Linked DNA regions of Homo sapiens: region 2 is linked to region 1. A link means that fine-mapping ties the variant in region 1 to the expression of a gene that starts in the linked region. Tissue or cell type: whole blood. Region 1 holds a variant in brackets; the other region holds the start of a gene. All regions are shown on one strand. Distances are from middle to middle.

The links. PIP is the estimated chance that this variant, and not a neighbour inherited with it, causes the effect.
Region 2: it holds the start of SLC61A1, and the variant in region 1 is the best candidate, but not a certain one, in a credible set for the expression of SLC61A1 in whole blood (TOPMed, PIP 0.62).

Annotation. Positions count from the first base shown.
Region 1 is chr12:53,277,522-53,287,172 of GRCh38, forward strand. It overlaps ESPL1 (extra spindle pole bodies like 1, separase), which reads left to right. Exons shown (of 31, transcript NM_012291.5): 10 at 1-87; 11 at 300-439; 12 at 2,211-2,345; 13 at 3,986-4,105; 14 at 4,743-4,914; 15 at 5,608-5,736; 16 at 5,861-6,017; 17 at 6,537-6,646; 18 at 8,403-9,391. Among named protein-coding and RNA genes, the nearest start is that of PFDN5, 13 kb to the right of the region's middle. The variant TCATTTC/T (reference allele first, on the strand shown) is at 2,928.
Region 2 is chr12:53,247,745-53,257,647 of GRCh38, forward strand. It overlaps SLC61A1 (solute carrier family 61 member 1), which reads left to right and starts at 4,351. Exons shown (of 2, transcript NM_032889.5): 1 at 4,351-4,524; 2 at 5,074-6,662. The coding sequence starts at 5,092. The coding sequence ends at 6,444. RefSeq lists enhancers at 4,014-4,063, 4,197-4,868, 8,502-8,701 and silencers at 4,334-4,613, 4,624-4,673.

The sequences.
Region 1 (9,651 bases):
AAGTCAATGACCTGAACTATGAAGATAAACTCCAGGAAGATCGTTTCCTATACAGTAACATTGCCTTCAACCTGGCTGCAGATGCTGGTGAGGGGTAAATGGAGTGTGGCATGGGCATCTCCATGGCTTCCTAAGAGTGGAACAGGGACCCCTGGTGAGGGAAACCCTGACCTTGTAGGGTAGGAGGTTGTGGAAGCAGTGGGAGGTTGGCGTAAAGGGCAGAGGATGTTATGGAGGAAGGGAAGTTCTCTCCAGATGGCCCATGCTGAGACAGCAGTCATTTTCTTCTGGCTTAACAGCTCAGTCCAAATGCCTGGACCAAGCCCTGGCCCTGTGGAAGGAGCTGCTTACAAAGGGGCAGGCCCCAGCTGTACGGTGTCTCCAGCAGACAGCAGCCTCACTGCAGATCCTAGCAGCCCTCTACCAGCTGGTGGCAAAGGTAATGGGGTGGGGCATTGAGGGGGACCCATATAAACAAGGACTAGACCAGAAACAGCTCCCTCGCCTTCTTTGGCCTGTGATCCTCCTGAGAAGCCATGAAAGCCAGTGATGGAAGCGCAGGGCTGTATCACCAGTCTTATTTTAAATCCAAGCTCCCTCATTCATTAGTGTATGGCCTTGGGCAAGTTGCTTAACCTAAGCCCAAGTTTCCTTATCTCTAAAATAGGGGCCATGCTACTGCCTCGTGGCGTTATTATTCAGTGCAGCAGTGCATGGAAGAGGTATTGTGTAAATGGTATGCTCAAATGTTAGCTTTAGTCTGGGCAACACGGCGAAACCCCGTCTCTACAAGAAATAAAAAAAATATAGCCCGGTGCGGTGGCATGTGCCTGTAATCCCAGCTACTCAGGTGGCTGAGGCAGGAGAATCCCTTGAGCCAGGAGGTAGAGGTTGCAGTGAGCCAAGATCGCGCCACTGCACTCCATCCTGGGGGACAGAGCAAGATGCTGTTTCACGCTATTTCATTAAAAAAAAAAAAGTTAGCTTTAATTATTAGATGATTTGTTACCTATCAGAAAAATACATAGATGCCTTTAGACACAATTTTACATTCTTACATTCTTATGTGTGCCTTCTTTTTTTTTTTCAAGATGGAGTCTCACTCTGTCGCCCAGGCTGGAGTGCAGTGGCGCAATCTGGGCTCACTGCAACTTCCGCCATCTGGGTTCAAGTGATTCTCCTGCCTCAGCCTCCTGAGTAGCTGGGACTACAGGCACGCAACCACGCCTGGCTACTTTTTTGTATTTTTAGTATAGACAGGGTTTCACCATATTGGCCAGGCCGGTCTCGATCTCCTCAGGTGATCCACCCGCCTCAGCCTCCCAAAGTGCTGGGATTACAGGCGTGAGCCACCGCACCCAGCTTTCCGCCCCGCCCCCCCGCCGAGATAGAGTCTTGCTCTGTTACCCAGGCTGGAGTGCAGTGGCGTGATCTCAGCTCACTGCAACCTCCACCTCCTGGGTTCAAGCGATTCTCCTGGCTCACTCAGCCTCCTGAGTAGCTGGGACTACAGGCGCATACCACCACACCCTGCTAATTTTGTATTATTGGTAGAGATGGGGTTTCACTATGTTGGCCAGGCTGATCTCGAACTCCTGATCTCAGGTGACCCGTCTGCCTCAGCCTTTCAAAGTGCTGGGGTTACAGGCATGAGCCACTGTGCCTGGCCTATAAGGCCATGTACATTCTTATTTCAGGGAGTTTCACAAAATTCCTGAAGCTCTACCCTAGACTCCACATTAGGAAACAAACAAACAAACAAAAAGCCTTTATACATGCTGTTAACTATGAGCTATTAAACCATATTTCTAGCAGGGGAAGCTACCTCAGCCCTAGATTTGAGACTTGGTTCTGCCACATACCTGTTATATGAACTTAGACAAGCAACTTAACCCATGTGAGTCTTAGCTTCCTGTACTGTAAAATTGGGATTAGACTTGTTATGAAGGTTAAATGCACTGATGCATGTAAGCCTGGGCACAGTGCCTGGCACATAGTAAGAACTCAGAAAATCCTGGCTATTGATGATGAATGGCATCTAGGCTTTAAAACAGTAGGGGTGGGGTGATGATTGCTTCATCTGGGTAACTACATTCCACCCAGGCCCTGAGGTCAAACTACAGTCCAAGGTCCCAAAGGGCTGGGGAGCAGAGGGTAGAAATAGAGGCTTGAGCAGGGGTGGAGTAAACTTGGCTGCTTCTGCTGACCAGCCCATGCAGGCTCTGGAGGTCCTCCTGCTGCTACGGATTGTCTCTGAGAGACTGAAGGACCACTCGAAGGCAGCTGGCTCCTCCTGCCACATCACCCAGCTCCTCCTGACCCTCGGCTGTCCCAGCTATGCCCAGGTGAGTGCCCAACCAGCCTAGTCTGGGGACTGCAGGGGGCCCGTAGCTTTAGAGGCCCACCTCTGAGAAGACAGGATATCAAAGGGGCAGCTTCTCGGCCTTTTACCACCACAACTGGCTGGAGAATTGTGGAGTGTGGAGCAGTTGGAGGCAGCTGTAAGAAGGGGAGTCATCTTTGTCCTTCCTGCAAAACCAGTTGTTCATTAAGTTTACAGACTGCTGCAGGAACCTACCGCCAGTCTTGTATTTCCTAACTGGTTCTGTTGCCCTAGTTGATGCTTCATTGCTCATGTAAAGCTATCACAGTGTCTCCTGGTTGGTCTCCTTGCCTCCAGTTTCTCCCTTTTCTACTTCGTCTTCTTAACGACCACTGGTAGGCACAGGTGTGATGTAATCTCTTTCCTGCTTAACCCTGTTCCCTTTTGCCCCAATAATACTTGCCAGCGCTTACGGCTGCAGTGTTTACCCCTGGATAACTTTGCCACAAAATATCTCACTCTTACTATTTTTGCATCACTCTAGTATATTGACTTTGGAAACAGAAGACATCATTCTGTTTATAGCATTCTGTTTTTAGTGGTG[TCATTTC/T]CATTTCCATTTCCATTTCCACTTCCACGTCACCCTCCCGAGTAACTGGGACTACAGGTACATGCCACCACACCTGGCTAATTTTTAAATGTTTTGTAGAGACAGAGTCTCACTATGTTGCCCAGGCTGGTCTTGAACTCCTGGGCTCAAGTGATCTCCCACCTCAGCCTCCCAAAGTACTGATAATACAGGCATGAGCCACCGTGCCCAGCTACTGCTTACTCTGTATATAGCTTTAATCTAAAAGTGGTTAACCAGGCTGAGCGCAGTGGCTCACACGTGTAATCCCAGCATTTTGGGAGGCTGAGGTGGGCAGATCACCTGAGGTCAGGAGTTGGAGACCAGCCTGACCAACATGGAGAAACCCCGTCTCTACTAAAAATACAAAATTAGCCAGGTATGGTGGCGCATGCCCGTAATCCCAGCTACCTGGGAGGCTGAGACAGGAGAGCACTTGATCCCGGGAGGCGGAGGTTGCGGTGAGCTGAGATCACACCATTGCACTCCAGCCTGGGCAACAAGAGCGAAACTCCGTCCTAAAAAAAAAAAAGTGGTTAACCAAGTGTTAAATGGACATTTTAGAGAGTGAATCAATAACTCCTATGCAGATTATAATATCTGAAATAATGTAATATTTATTGGACATGTTGAACATTTTGCTTGTAAATACTTTACTCCACTTTTTTTTTTTTTTTTTTTTTGAGACGGAGTCTCACTCTGTTGCCCAGGCTGGAGTGCAGTGGCGCGATCTCCATTCACTGCAACCTCTGCCTCTCGGGTTCAAGTGATTCTCATGCCTCAGCCTCCCGAGTAGCTGGGATTACAGGCGCGTGCCACCACACCTGGCTAATTTTTGTATTTTTAGTAGAGATGGGGGTGTCACCATGTTGGCCAGGCTGGTCTTGAACTCCTGACCTCAGGTGATCCGCCCACCTTGGCCTCCCAAAGTGCTGGGATTACAGGTGTGAGCCACATGGCCACCCTTATTTACTCCAGTTTTGTTTGAAGAGCCTGGCTGCCTTTCCTCATGTGCCCTCTGATTGCTTCCTTAGTTACACCTGGAAGAGGCAGCATCGAGCCTGAAGCATCTCGATCAGACTACTGACACATACCTGCTCCTTTCCCTGACCTGTGATCTGCTTCGAAGTCAACTCTACTGGACTCACCAGAAGGTATTTCTCACTTTCTTAAACTCCGAAGGCCCTGGGTATTAGAAAGAATTTAGGATTTTCTTGATATTTGCCTGGCTTTTGAGATTTCCCTGGAGCTAGGCAGTATGTTCCTGACCCTGAGAGGCAGGCATATTTCCTAGCCTTGCCCTCGCCAGCGATTTGCTCACCAGTCCTCCTCTGGTAGAGATACAGTCCTTTTCCTTCTTCAGGGGCAAGGGGGAAAGTCTGTCCTGTGACGAAAAGCTGGGACAATGGTGATCCTGGGAAGGCATGGGAGCTCTGGACTAGAAATCCAGGGGATGGCAAAGACTTGAGTTTTCTCCCAAACTAGTTGTGTGACTTGGGCACGTCTTCTACCTTCTCATGCTCTAGTTTCTTCTCTACGTTTTTATCATTCCTAAATTGGCGGACAAGTCACTGGTGAGGGCAAAGCTAGGAACTGTTACTGCTTCTCAGGGTCAGGAACATTCTGCCTAGGTCCAGGGAGATCTCGAAAGCCAGGCAAATATTCAGAAAATTCTAAAATCTTTCTAATACCCAGGGCCTTCAGGGATGGGGCCACGTAATCTCCAGGGCCTCTCAAGCTCTGGAGTGCCTGACTGCCTTACTGCCTCCTCTGGCTCCTTCTCTCCTTCAGGTGACCAAGGGTGTCTCTCTGCTGCTGTCTGTGCTTCGGGATCCTGCCCTCCAGAAGTCCTCCAAGGCTTGGTACTTGCTGCGTGTCCAGGTCCTGCAGCTGGTGGCAGCTTACCTTAGCCTCCCGTCAAACAACCTCTCACACTCCCTGTGGGAGCAGCTCTGTGCCCAAGGTGAAAGAATAGGGTGGATGGCCCCCCTTGGATGACATGTATGGTCTGTCTGCTGTCAGCTCTTCTCAAACCTCATCCCCTCTGCTGGCTAACTATGTGGCCCAGCCTACCTAGAACCTGCACAGAGTAGGCCTGGGATAGCAGATGGGTTTCAGTTTGCCTGCTGACTCTAAACAATTGGTGACTGCCTGGAATACTAGGCTGAAAGGATTTTTTTTTCTTTTCTTTTTTTTCTAAGACGGAGTTTCGCTGTTGTCACCCAGGCTGGAGTGCAATGGTGCAATCTCAGCTCACTGCAACCTCTGCCTCCTGGGTTCAAACGATTCTCCTGCCTCAACCTCCTGAGTAGCTGGGATTACTGGCATGCGCCACTACGCCCGACTAATTTTTGTATTATTAGTAGAGGTGGGGTTTCACCATGTTGGCCAGGCTGGTCTCAAACTCCTGACCTCGGGTGATCCGTCTGCCTCAGCCTCCCAAAATGCTGGGATTACAGGCTTGGGCCACTGCGCCCAGCCAGCTGAAAGGATTCTGAGACCCCAGGGGATCTCAGAGGGAAGGAGTTATGAGATTGATTAGCTCTGCCTGCCTTAATGCAGAAGGAAGCATGGGAAGCAGGCTTTGCTGCCTTAGTAGCTAAAAGTGGTGAAGTTCTGGCTGCATCTTCTCCCTTTTTCACCCCACCCACCACAGGCTGGCAGACACCTGAGATAGCTCTCATAGACTCCCATAAGCTCCTCCGAAGCATCATCCTCCTGCTGATGGGCAGTGACATTCTCTCAACTCAGAAAGCAGCTGTGGAGACATCGTTTTTGGACTATGGTGAGTCTGGGGAGGACAGCAGGGCCCTCTTGGAATGGACAGGCTATGTGAGAGGGCTGCGGTTTTTTCTCCAGAGGATCCACACTGTGGCTGAGTGATGGTGGTCTTGTCTCTTTTGCTACAGGTGAAAATCTGGTACAAAAATGGCAGGTTCTTTCAGAGGTGCTGAGCTGCTCAGAGAAGCTGGTCTGCCACCTGGGCCGCCTGGGTAGTGTGAGTGAAGCCAAGGCCTTTTGCTTGGAGGCCCTAAAACTTACAACAAAGCTGCAGATACCACGCCAGTAAGTACAGGGCCAGAGGATATGGCAATGATGGCACCAAAGTGCCATGCACCCTTGAACATGGATTCCAAACTGTTCCACAGATTACATGCTATGTTTAGATACATTCGTGGAAAAAGGCATTCCACAGCTAAATAAGTGGGAAATGCTGAGTTAATCAAGGTTAGATGTTTTTATTTCCTGTAGGACTCTCGTGTCCTTCAGTATGCGGATGTGCCTTGCAAATCTCCAAAAGGGAGATCTAGTGTACAGTGTTTCCCTAAGAATGTTTTCCCACAGGATTCTTTTATTGAGGAATGCAGTTTGGGAAATCCTGTCCCAAGGCACAAGGAGAGTTGGGATTAGAGAGAAGTGTAGAGGGTTTTCCCCAGGGAGCCTTTAAGTCAGCTTAAGGGAGTGAATGCCTTTTGGAGGCAGGGAAGGACTCAGGTAGCTTGGCCTGGGAAAGAGGCAAAGAGAAAGACTCTCCAGGAAAACAAAGGATTCCTCTGATTGGTTCTCCTCTCCTCTCTCAACAAGGTGTGCCCTGTTCCTGGTGCTGAAGGGCGAGCTGGAGCTGGCCCGCAATGACATTGATCTCTGTCAGTCGGACCTGCAGCAGGTTCTGTTCTTGCTTGAGTCTTGCACAGGTGAGCAGCCATGTCCCCATGACCATAGGCGGTGCTGAAATGACACACACTACAGCACATCTTTCTATGTAAAGGTTTCGTTGCCTTTTTTTATTTTTGAGACAGAGTCTCACTTTATTACCCAGGCTGGAGTGCAGTGGCGTGATCTTGGCTCACTGCAACCCCTGCCTCCTGCCTCCTAGGTTCAGGTGATTCTCCTGCTTCAGCCTCCCAAGTAGCTGGGACTACAGGCATGCGCCACCACACCCGGATAATTTTTTTTATTTGTAGTAGAGATGAGGTTTCACTATGTTGGCCAGGCTGGTCTCGAACTCCTGACCTCAGGTGATCCACCCGCCTCGGCCTCCTAAAGTGCTGGGATTACAGGCATGAGCCACCGCTCCCGGCCTTTGTTCCCTTTTTAATCAGATACTGACTTCTGGTCCCAGGGCAACATTCCCTTGACTTTAGTCCAACCATTGGTCTCCCTCTTTCAGAGAGCCTGTCCCAGACTTACCCTAGTTCTAGTTTTCAGTGCTTCCTAATACATTTTGGCTATTTAAATTTGATTTAGATAATATTTAGGGCCGGGCTCGGTGGCTCATGCCTGTAATCCTAGCACTTTGGGAGGCTGAGGCAGGCGGATCATGGGGTCAGGAGTTCAAGACCAGCCTGGCCAACAAAGTGAAACCCCATCTCTACTAATAATACAAAAATTAGCCAGGCATGGTGGCGGGCACCTGTAATCCCAGCTACTCAGAAGGCTGAGGCAGGAGAATAGCTTGAACCTGGGAGGCGGAGGTTGCAGTGAGGAAGATTGCACCATTGCACTCCAGCCCGGGTGACAGTGCGAGACTCTGACTCAAAAAAAAAAAAAAAAAGAAGAAAGAAAGAAAGAAAGATAATATTTAGAATTCAGTCCTCAGTCACACTAGCCACACTTCATGTGCTCAATAGCCACATGGCTAGTGGCTACCGTATTGAGTAGCACAAACATATCCTCAGGAGGGCTGAAGCTAATAATAAAACATTGCATTGATGGCACATTTTGTCTCCCCAATCACATATACTTCTAGTACTTCATTTGCCCCACACTAGACCTCATAAAGCTGAGTGGGAGCATAGATTATTTTCATTTGTTAAATGAGAAAGTTGAGAAGTCTATGTTTGGGGCCAGCATCACAGGGTAGGAGGCAGGATTCAGGTGTGGGCCTGCTGGGGCCAGCCTGCTTTTCTCAGCCATGTGGCCCCTGAGCTGCAGGTGTGGGGGCTTTGTGGCCTGCATTTGATCCATTGTTGGTTGGAAAGAAAACAAAAATTTTACCTCCAAGGCGGGCGGATCACAAGGTCAGGAGATCGAGACCATTCTGGCTAACACGGTGAAACCCCGTCTCCACTAAAAAATACAAAAAATTAGCCGGGCGTGGTGGTGGGCGCCTGTAGTCCCAGCTACTCGGGAGGCTGAGGCAGGAGAATGGCATGAACCCGGGAGGCGGAGCTTGCAGTGAGCTGAGATTGTGCCACTGCACTCCAGCCTGGGCGACAGAGAGAGACTCCATCTCAAAAAAAAAAGAAAAAAAGAAAAAGATTTTACCTAAAAAATAATAAGCCATACTAATATTTGATATGTTATACAGTAATACATATATATACACACATATATATACACGTACGTATATAAAACACATATATTAGAGAATTGGGCCCCAAGGTCGCTCAGGAAGTGCTTGATGCCATTTCTCCCCGTTTTGTAATTCTTGTTCTGCCTTCTCCCCAGAGTTTGGTGGGGTGACTCAGCACCTGGACTCTGTGAAGAAGGTCCACCTGCAGAAGGGGAAGCAGCAGGCCCAGGTCCCCTGTCCTCCACAGCTCCCAGAGGAGGAGCTCTTCCTAAGAGGCCCTGCTCTAGAGCTGGTGGCCACTGTGGCCAAGGAGCCTGGCCCCATAGCACCTTCTACAAACTCCTCCCCAGTCTTGAAAACCAAGCCCCAGCCCATACCCAACTTCCTGTCCCATTCACCCACCTGTGACTGCTCGCTCTGCGCCAGCCCTGTCCTCACAGCAGTCTGTCTGCGCTGGGTATTGGTCACGGCAGGGGTGAGGCTGGCCATGGGCCACCAAGCCCAGGGTCTGGATCTGCTGCAGGTCGTGCTGAAGGGCTGTCCTGAAGCCGCTGAGCGCCTCACCCAAGCTCTCCAAGCTTCCCTGAATCATAAAACACCCCCCTCCTTGGTTCCAAGCCTCTTGGATGAGATCTTGGCTCAAGCATACACACTGTTGGCACTGGAGGGCCTGAACCAGCCATCAAACGAGAGCCTGCAGAAGGTTCTACAGTCAGGGCTGAAGTTTGTAGCAGCACGGATACCCCACCTAGAGCCCTGGCGAGCCAGCCTGCTCTTGATTTGGGCCCTCACAAAACTAGGTGGCCTCAGCTGCTGTACTACCCAACTTTTTGCAAGCTCCTGGGGCTGGCAGCCACCATTAATAAAAAGTGTCCCTGGCTCAGAGCCCTCTAAGACTCAGGGCCAAAAACGTTCTGGACGAGGGCGCCAAAAGTTAGCCTCTGCTCCCCTGCGCCTCAATAATACCTCTCAGAAAGGTCTGGAAGGTAGAGGACTGCCCTGCACACCTAAACCCCCAGACCGGATCAGGCAAGCTGGCCCTCATGTCCCCTTCACGGTGTTTGAGGAAGTCTGCCCTACAGAGAGCAAGCCTGAAGTACCCCAGGCCCCCAGGGTACAACAGAGAGTCCAGACGCGCCTCAAGGTGAGGTGGGACTGTTGCTAGGTGGTGGTGATGGTGTTGGATGGGGTTAGTCCTGGAGGAGAGTGTTTTATAGAGCAGGTGTCCCTGTGGAATAGCTCCCCAGGGCCTAGTGGAACTTTAATCTCCTGCTATCTGCAGTACCCCAATATCTTGCTTTTTTGTTTTTTGTTGTTTTTTTGAGAAGGAGTCTCGCTCTGTCGCCCAGGCTGGAGTGCAGTGGCGCAATCTCAGCTCACTGCAAGCTCCGCCTCTTGGGTTCA
Region 2 (9,903 bases), 30 kb before region 1:
TGTCTCAAAAAAAAAAAAAAAAAAAAAAAAAAAAGAAAGAAAGAATTCAGAGACTCACTGTCATGAGTTCAAGGGGCTGAAGCCCAGGACTGGGCTGGAGGGCACTTACTGAGTGACCCTGGGGAAATCATGACTTTTTTCTTTTCCTTTTCCTTTTTTTTTTTTTTTTTTGAGACAGAGTTTCGCTTTTGTTGCCCAGGCTGAAGTGCAATGGCGCGATCTCAGATCACTACAACCTCTGCCTCCCAGGTTCAAGCGATTCTCCTGCCTCAGCCTCCTGAGTAGCTGGGACTACAGGCATGTGCCACCCTGCCCAACTAATTTTGTATTTTTAGTAGAGACGGGGTTTCTCTATGTTGGTCAGGCTGATCTCGAACTTCCGACCTCAGGTGATCTGCCCACCTGGGCCTCCCAAAGTGCTGGGATGCTGGGATTACCGGCATAAGCCACCATACACTGCTTTTTCCTTTTTAAAAGACAGGGCTTGTTCTGTCACCCAGGCTGAAGTACAGTGATACCATCAGAGCTCACTGCAGCCTTGAACTCCTGGGCTCAAGCAATCCTCCTGCCTATGTCTCAGGAATAACTGGGGTTACAGGCACCCACCACCATGCCCAGACAGGAGTCTCCCTAGTTGCCCAGGCTGGCCTCAAACTCCTGGCTTCAAGAGATCCTCCCACCTCAACCTCCTAAAGTGCTAGGGTTACAGATATGAGCCACCAAGCCTAGCAGAAATCATGATTTATTTATTTATTTATTTATTTGAGACAGAGTCTCACTCTGTTGCCCAAGCTGGAGTGCAGTGATGCGATCTTGGCTCACTGCAACCTCCACCTCCCGAGTTCAAATGATTCTCCTGCCTCAGCCACCTGAGTAGCTGGGATTACAGGCATGCACCACCATGGCCCGGCTATTTTTTTTGTATTTTTTGTAGAGATGGGGTTTTGCCATGTTGGCCAGGCTGGTCTTGAACTCCTGGCTTCAAGAGTTCCGCCCACCTTGGCCTCCCAAAGTGCTGGGATTACAGGCGCAAGCCACCACCCCTGGTCAGAAATCATGATTTTCTATCTTAGTGTTTCTAGATGAAAGCATGGGAACCATCACCCCTTTCTACTTTCCACTAGTTTGCCAGCTAGGGATGAAAGCGCTTTGGAACTTGTAGGGCGTAAATCAGCTGTTTTATCATAAGAAAGTATTTCTCCAGGCTGGACACGGTGGCTCATGCCTGTAATCCCAGCACTTTGGGAGGCCAAGGAGGGTGGAACCCTTAAGGCCAGAAGTTCAAGACTTTTTTGGGACAGGGTCTCACTCTGTCCCCCAGGCTGGAGTGCAGTGGCATGATCTCGGCTCACTGCAACCTCTGCCTCCTGAGTTCAAGAGATTCTCCTGCCTCAGCCTCCCAAGTAGCTGGGATTACAGGTGTGTGCCACTATCGCCCAGCTTTTTGTATTTTTAGTAGTGATGGGGTTTCACCATGTTGGCCAGGCTGGTCTGGAACTCCTGACTTCAAATAATCCACCCACATTGGCCTCCCAAAGTGCTCGGATTACAGGCGTAAGCCACCATGCCTGGCCAAAAGAAAGTATTTCTCCAGATGTAATCCCAAACCCTCCTACCCTACCTCTAAGCTTTAGTATAAAAAAAAAAAAAAACCAACAGGCCGGGCGCGGATCCCCTAAGGTTGGGAGTTCGAGACCAGCCTGACCAACGTGGAGAAACCCTGTCTCTAAAAAATACAAAATTAGCTGGGGGTGGTGGCGCATGCCTGTAATCCCAGCTACTTGGGAGGCTGAGACAGGAGAATCGCTTGAACCCGGGAGCCGGAGGTTGCAGTGAGCTGAGATCACGCCATTGCACTCCAGCCTGGGCAACAAGAGTGAAACTCCGTCTCAAATAAAAAAAAAAAAAGACTGATCTGCTGCGCAAGTAGGTGAACTAGTATAATTGCAGAAACTATGTGAGCTTGGAACTGGAAAGATTGGGTCCTGCTTCTAACTGCCTTTTACTATGTAACTCTAAACATGTTACCTAACCTTTCCAACTCTGGTTAGTACCTACTGTATGGATTGTTGTCAGTCAGATGAGATAATTCACCTACAGCAGTTGGACTAAACCTTCTTAAAACTCCTTAGGTACATAATAACTGATAAGTGTTATTATGTTAATATGGGCCAGTACTTTTGATAGTAATTTACATAACTTATTCATTTATTCATAGACTATTTATGGAATATTTATGATTAATACTTATCAATGACTGCTTTAAGTATAGGGAATACAGGTGAACAAAACAGATAAAAATCTGTAGGGAAAGAGATAGTAAATATTTACTTATTTACTTAGAGACGAAGTCTTGCTCTGTCCCCTAGGCTGGAGTGCAGTGGTGTAATCTTGGCTCACTGCAGCCTCCGCTTCCCAGGTTCAAGCAATTCTCGTACCTCAGCCTCCTGAGTAGGTGGGATTACAAGCGCGCACCACCAGGCCCAGCTAATTTTTTTGTTTATTTGTTTTGAGACGGAGTCTTGCTCTGTTGCCCAGGCTGGAGTGCAGTGGTGCAATCTCGGCTTACCGCAACCTCTGCCTCCCAGGTTGAAGCAATTCTCCTGCCTCAGCCTCCAAAGTAGCTGGGATTACAGGTGCACACCACCATGCCCAGCAAATTTTTTTGTAATTTTAGTAGAGACGGGGTTTCGCCATATTGGCCAGGCTAGTCTTGAACTCCTGACCTCATGATACGCCCGCCTCGGCCTCCCAAAGTGCTGGGATTACAGGTGTGAGCCACCGCGCCCAGCAATTTTTTGTATTATTAGTAGGCATGGGGTTTCGACATGTTGGCCAGACTGGTCTTAAATTCCTGGCCTCAAGTGATTCACCCACCTTGGCCTCTCAAAGTGTTGAGATTACAGGTGTGAGCCACCACACCTGGCCAAGATAGTAAATAAATAAACAAGGAAAATACATAGTGTACTGCAGAGTAAAAGCAGCAGAGAGAATAGAAAATTGGAAGGAAAGTAGGTAGATTACTGTGCTGGAGGTGGTGGTGTTGCTATTTTAAACAGGAGGGCCATGGAAGGCCCCTCTGATCAGGTGACATTTTTTAAAATTTTATTTTATTTTTTATTTTTTTGTGAGACAGAGTCTCGCTCTGTCACCCAGACTGGAGTGCAGTGGCGTGATCTTGGCTCACTGCAACCTCTGCCTCCCTGGTTCAAGCGATTCTCCTGCCTCAGCCTCCCGAGTAGGTGGGATTACAGGTGCCCACCACCATGCCTGGCTAATTTTTATATTTTTTTACTAGCGACGGGGTTTCACCATGTTGGCCAGGCTGATCTTGAACTCCTGACCTCAACTGATCGGCCTGCCTCAGCCTCCTAAACTGCTGGGATTACAGGAATGAGCCACCAGGCCCAGCCAAGATCAGGTGACATTTGAACAGAGAACTGGAGGAGGTGGGGGGGGGAACCACGTGGATATCTTGGAGAAGAACTGTACAGGGAACAGTGTGCAAAAGCCCTGGTGGTAGCCAACATAGATGGGAGGGAGAGGAGCAGGGGATGAAGTCAGAGGAGTGGCAGAGGGTCAGAGGACAGAGGGTCTTGTAGGCCATTATAAATACTTCGGCTTTTACCCTTAGTGAGATGGGAAGTCATTGGAGGCTCTTGAGGAGATGATACGGAAGCTGTAGAGAGGTTAAATAGTTTTTCCAAGGTAAAACAGCTTGTAAGTGGCAGAAGGTAGGGAATTAAGCTCCAAGGCTGAAGTTCTTAACCCCATGCTGCCACTGAACTTTAGCCTTCTTTATTTGGGCATTGCTATCCTGTGACTTCAAAGAAACTGGGACACTGGGAAGTTATGCGGCTTGCCCAAGGCCACACAGCTGGTAAGTGACAGGGGCAGGACTGCGCCTTAGTCTGTCTGCAGCCCGACTCCAAGTTCTTTACACCACACCGCCTCCCTCAGGTGTCTGGACCATACTGGCTTCTCTTGCATGGAGGTCACTGCAGTGGGAGAGGAGGCAAACCAAGGAGACCTTCTCGGCTTCGGGCAGCGGTGCTGTTCCTTAGGAAGCTCCAACCCTTGGCTCTACCGGACTGCGGGCATCTTTCCCGAGCACTGCACGGAAGAAAAGAAAATTGGCACTTATTTCAGGGTGGCCCCTCAGGCATCCAAGAGCCAGAGGAGCAGGTGTCACGGGATGGCAGCGAGCGAGGCCAGGCCAGGAGAAGCAACCGCAGCCTCCTATGGTCGCCCCTTCCCGACCCACCCCAGGCGTCAGGAGTTCCGCGCCCGGGTAAGGGAAGGAGGGCGGGCGGGCGGGGCGGGGCGGGGTTTTGGCGCCGCGCCCCCGTCACGTGATGAAGCCATCATGGCGGCGGCCAGAGGCCTGCCCGGCTCCCGGAAGCAGGCTGTGAGGGGCGGGAGCGCTGCTGGAACCCGAGCCGGAGCCGGAGCCACAGCGGGGAGGGTGGCCTGGCGGCCTGGAGCCGGACGTGTCCGGGGCGTCCCCGCAGACCGGGGCAGCAGGTGAGGCGGAGTCTGGGCGAGGTGCAAGTGGATGTGGCAGGGCTGGGCAGGGGCTAGGGGGCGCAGTGGGGTGCCAGTGACCTGGAGGAGTGGGCCTCTGAGATGCACACGCATGACCCTGAAGCAACTCGAGAGGCCTGCGCGGGTGGGAGGGATGCCCGGGACAGAGGATGAGACACTGAGGGCAAAAAGAGGCTCCGCAGCGAGGACGGGAGGTAATAGAAGGAAGTGTACGGGAGCTGCTGTGGGAAAGGGCAGTAGAATTTGCGGGAGCGGGATTATTGAAAGGGACTCCCTCTTCACAGGCAAGGATGGGTTGAGTGCCCAGTCCTCTCCCCTGTCTTCTTACCCCTCCCTGCCCCACAGTGTCCTAGGAGACAGCTTTGGCGTGGCCACTCCTCCCACCCACCCAACTGGTCCCTCCGGTCTGAGATCTTGGGGAGTGGAGTTGGCAGCGGGGTTGGGTGGAGCTGCCATCTGCTTAAGACAGCCCCTTGACCGTGCTGCCCGAAGGATGGATATGGCTCTGACTCCCACCTCTCTTCCCAGGTCGTCCGGGGGCCCACCATGCTGGTGACTGCCTACCTTGCTTTTGTAGGCCTCCTGGCCTCCTGCCTGGGGCTGGAACTGTCAAGATGCCGGGCTAAACCCCCTGGAAGGGCCTGCAGCAATCCCTCCTTCCTTCGGTTTCAACTGGACTTCTATCAGGTCTACTTCCTGGCCCTGGCAGCTGATTGGCTTCAGGCCCCCTACCTCTATAAACTCTACCAGCATTACTACTTCCTGGAAGGTCAAATTGCCATCCTCTATGTCTGTGGCCTTGCCTCTACAGTCCTCTTTGGCCTAGTGGCCTCCTCCCTTGTGGATTGGCTGGGTCGCAAGAATTCTTGTGTCCTCTTCTCCCTGACTTACTCACTATGCTGCTTAACCAAACTCTCTCAAGACTACTTTGTGCTGCTAGTGGGGCGAGCACTTGGTGGGCTGTCCACAGCCCTGCTCTTCTCAGCCTTCGAGGCCTGGTATATCCATGAGCACGTGGAACGGCATGACTTCCCTGCTGAGTGGATCCCAGCTACCTTTGCTCGAGCTGCCTTCTGGAACCATGTGCTGGCTGTAGTGGCAGGTGTGGCAGCTGAGGCTGTAGCCAGCTGGATAGGGCTGGGGCCTGTAGCGCCCTTTGTGGCTGCCATCCCTCTCCTGGCTCTGGCAGGGGCCTTGGCCCTTCGAAACTGGGGGGAGAACTATGACCGGCAGCGTGCCTTCTCAAGGACCTGTGCTGGAGGCCTGCGCTGCCTCCTGTCGGACCGCCGCGTGCTGCTGTTGGGCACCATACAAGCTCTATTTGAGAGTGTCATCTTCATCTTTGTCTTCCTCTGGACACCTGTGCTGGACCCACACGGGGCCCCTCTGGGCATTATCTTCTCCAGCTTCATGGCAGCCAGCCTGCTTGGCTCTTCCCTGTACCGTATCGCCACCTCCAAGAGGTACCACCTTCAGCCCATGCACCTGCTGTCCCTTGCTGTGCTCATCGTCGTCTTCTCTCTCTTCATGTTGACTTTCTCTACCAGCCCAGGCCAGGAGAGTCCGGTGGAGTCCTTCATAGCCTTTCTACTTATTGAGTTGGCTTGTGGATTATACTTTCCCAGCATGAGCTTCCTACGGAGAAAGGTGATCCCTGAGACAGAGCAGGCTGGTGTACTCAACTGGTTCCGGGTACCTCTGCACTCACTGGCTTGCCTAGGGCTCCTTGTCCTCCATGACAGTGATCGAAAAACAGGCACTCGGAATATGTTCAGCATTTGCTCTGCTGTCATGGTGATGGCTCTGCTGGCAGTGGTGGGACTCTTCACCGTGGTAAGGCATGATGCTGAGCTGCGGGTACCTTCACCTACTGAGGAGCCCTATGCCCCTGAGCTGTAACCCCACTCCAGGACAAGATAGCTGGGACAGACTCTTGAATTCCAGCTATCCGGGATTGTACAGATCTCTCTGTGACTGACTTTGTGACTGTCCTGTGGTTTCTCCTGCCATTGCTTTGTGTTTGGGAGGACATGATGGGGGTGATGGACTGGAAAGAAGGTGCCAAAAGTTCCCTCTGTGTTACTCCCATTTAGAAAATAAACACTTTTAAATGATCATTGATTTGATTTACTCATCCTTACCTGTAGCCTTATCAGTAGTTTCTGGTGAGTGGGCAGCTAGAGGTTTTTTTTTTAGTTTTTTTTTGTTTTGTTTTGTTTGTTTTTGTTTTGAGACGGAGTCTTGCTCTGTCGCCCAGGCTGGAGTGCAATGGCGCGATCTTGGCTCACTGCAACCTCCGCCTCCCGGATTCAAGCAATTCTCCTGCTTCAGCCTCCCAAGTAGCTGGGATTACATGTGCCTGCTACCATGCCCAGCTAATTTTTGTATTTTTAATAGAGATGGGGTTTCATGTTGACCAGGCTGGTCTCGAACTCCTCACTTCAGGTGATCCACCCACCTCGGCCTCCCAAAGTGTTGGGATTACAGGCATGAGCCACCACGCCCAGCCCAGCTAGAGGTTTTGAGGTGGGATTATCAGCAAAAGTTTTCTGTTTCTAACTTCTCCAAGGCTGTCTCCAGTTCAAACTGAGAACTATGGAATTGCTCTCAGCAGAGCTGTGTGGGAAGGGCCTGAGGCTTCTAGGTCCTCCACATTCCTCTGTTGTGGGACAGGCACTCCCCCCAGTTGTCAAGCAGAACCCTTGCTTACATCCAGGGTAAGATGATCTCCAGAGCACATGGAGTAGATGCCCCATATGCCAGGCCACTGAGCAAAGATTCCAGGGGCTTGGGCTGCTGCTGTGACCACTCCTTGGGCAAAGCCAGGGCCCTTCCTACCAAAGTAAGCTTGCAGCTCAGCACAGGCCTGCTGCCTCCCTTTTGCCTCTGTGGCTATGAATGCACCATTTGTCCAACATCATCTGGGTCTACCAGATCCTGTATCCCTGTGTGAAACCGAAGTGAAAGGCTGCCAAGGGGACAGAGTGGTGCATGGCTGAGGGACTAGGATGTCTTATCTGTACCTGACTGTCCCCAACCCAGCCTGAATGAGGGTGAGGGAGCCATCAGGGCAGGAAACAGTACTAGTGAGCCAGTTCTGTGGGTGCCTCCCTGCCTCACCTCTGATTGTATCTGCCTTTCCTCCTCCCACCAAAACCTGGGCTTCTCAGGGGAAGCACAGCCAGCTTTAAGAAGGGTGGGGAGGGAAGGAGGGTAGGCTCAAGGATGTGTCCTGGAATGTGCTTGAGATGGGCATGGGGGACACATACCCTTTCTGGAAAGGGGTTAATGACCTTTCCTTGGGTCCCAGACTACTCAGAAAGATGCAGGATGTTCCAAGACCTGCAGGTCCCAACCTGTGTGGAGAGATAGCATCAGCAGGTGCTGGTGGAATGCAGGGTGGAAGGGCTTCTGCAGGGTGAGGCCAAGGGGAGGAATGGGTGGTGGTCTCAGGTCCCTACTCAGACTAGGAAAAAACATGTTCCCCCACCCAGGCTTCAGGGAATAGAGGTTGAGGTTAAGTAAGAAAAACACATATCAGCCAGGTGTGGTGACTTACACCTGTAATCCCAGCACTTTGGGAGGCCCAGGAGTTTGAGACCAGCCTGGGCAACACGGCGAAACCCCGTCTCTACAAAAAATACAAAAATTAGCTGTGCGTAGTGGCATGTGCCCATGGTCTGAGTTACTTGGGAGGCTGAGGTGGGAGGATCAATTGAGCCTGGGAGATCGAGGCTGCAGTGAGTGATAATTGAGACACGCCACTGCACTCCAGCCTGGGCAACAGAATGAGACTGTCTCAAAAAACAAAAAAAAAGAAAAGGCATCTTTTCTACTACCCCCCTACTCCTGCCACCCATCATCTCAAGACTAAAGACAGTCTTGCAATAACTCCACTTCCTCTTTCTGCCCTGTTGGGCTAGACCTAGATATACTTTATAGTTATTTGTAGATGTTCCGTCTCAAGATCATGCTATGATCTTGAGGGGAAGAGGAAACAGTCTTACTCACCTTTATCTCCTGCATATATACACACAATTGGATGCTTTCCCCATGGCTGTGCTCAGTACATATCTGGAGAGGAGACAGGCTAGCTCACACCTGGCTTTTCAGGAGACACTTGGTGATTTGTTGTTTTGGATGACAATATCATTATTATCGGTTTTTGTTTTATTTTGTTTTTGAGATAGGGTCTCGCTCTGTCGCCTAGGCCAGAGTGTAGTGGCAGGATCATGGCTCACTGCAGCCTCGACCTCCTGGGCTCAAGCGATCCTCCCACCTTAGCCTCCCAAGTAGTAGGGACTACAGGCAGCACCACCATACCCAGCTAATTTTTTAAAAATTTTTGTAGAGACAAGGGTCTATGTTGCCCAGGCTCATCTGAAACTCCTGGGTTCAAGCCATCCTCCCTTCTCAGCCTCCCAAAGTGCTGGGATTACAGGTGTGAGCCACCACACCTGGCCTGACAGTAATTATTAGTGGCCCTCACATTCCTAAGTGATATGGAAATAGAGGGGTAGGGGAGACTAATGAGATTCCTTTAGCTTTGTCCCTGATGAGCTTGCTTCAAAGGGGCTGGTGGCAAATAGAGTGGAGAGTGTTCTTTCCTGTCAGACTCACAGCGTGTTAAGAGCTGGAAGGCATCTTAGAGATTATCCATTTGGCCTTAAACATTTTTTATTGAGCACCTGCTATGCCGTGTGTTTTACCGCTAGGTACTGGTGATATTTTTATTTATTATTTTATTTTATTTTATTTTTTAAGATGGAGTTTCGCTCTTGTCACCCAGGCTGGAGTGCAGTGGCACAATCTCGGCTCACCACAACCTCTACCTCCCAGGTTCAAGCAATTCTGCCTCAGCCTCCCAAGTAGCTGGGACTACAGGCGTGCACCACCACGCCTAGCTAATTTTTGTATTTTTAGTAGAGACAGGGTTTCACCATCTTGGCCATGCTGGTCTCAAACTCCTGACCTCATGATCCACCCGCCTTGGCCTCCCAAAGTGCTGGGATTACAGGCATGAGCAACCGTGCCCGGCCTATTTATTTATTTTTTTGAGATGGAGTCTCGCTGTATTGCCAGGCTGGAGTGCAGTGGCACCATCTCGGCTCCGAGGTTCAAGTGATTCTCCTGCCTCAGCCTCCCGCGTAGCTGGGACTACAGACACACCCCACCGCACCCAGTTAATTTTTAGTAGAGACGAGATTTCACCATGTTGGCCAGAATGGTCTTGATTTCTTGACCTCGTGATCCACCCGCCTCAGGCTCCCAAAGTGCTGGGATTACAGGCGTGAGCCACCACACCTGGCCTTATTTATTTATTTATTTATTTATTTATTTATTTTACCCAAGAGGAAA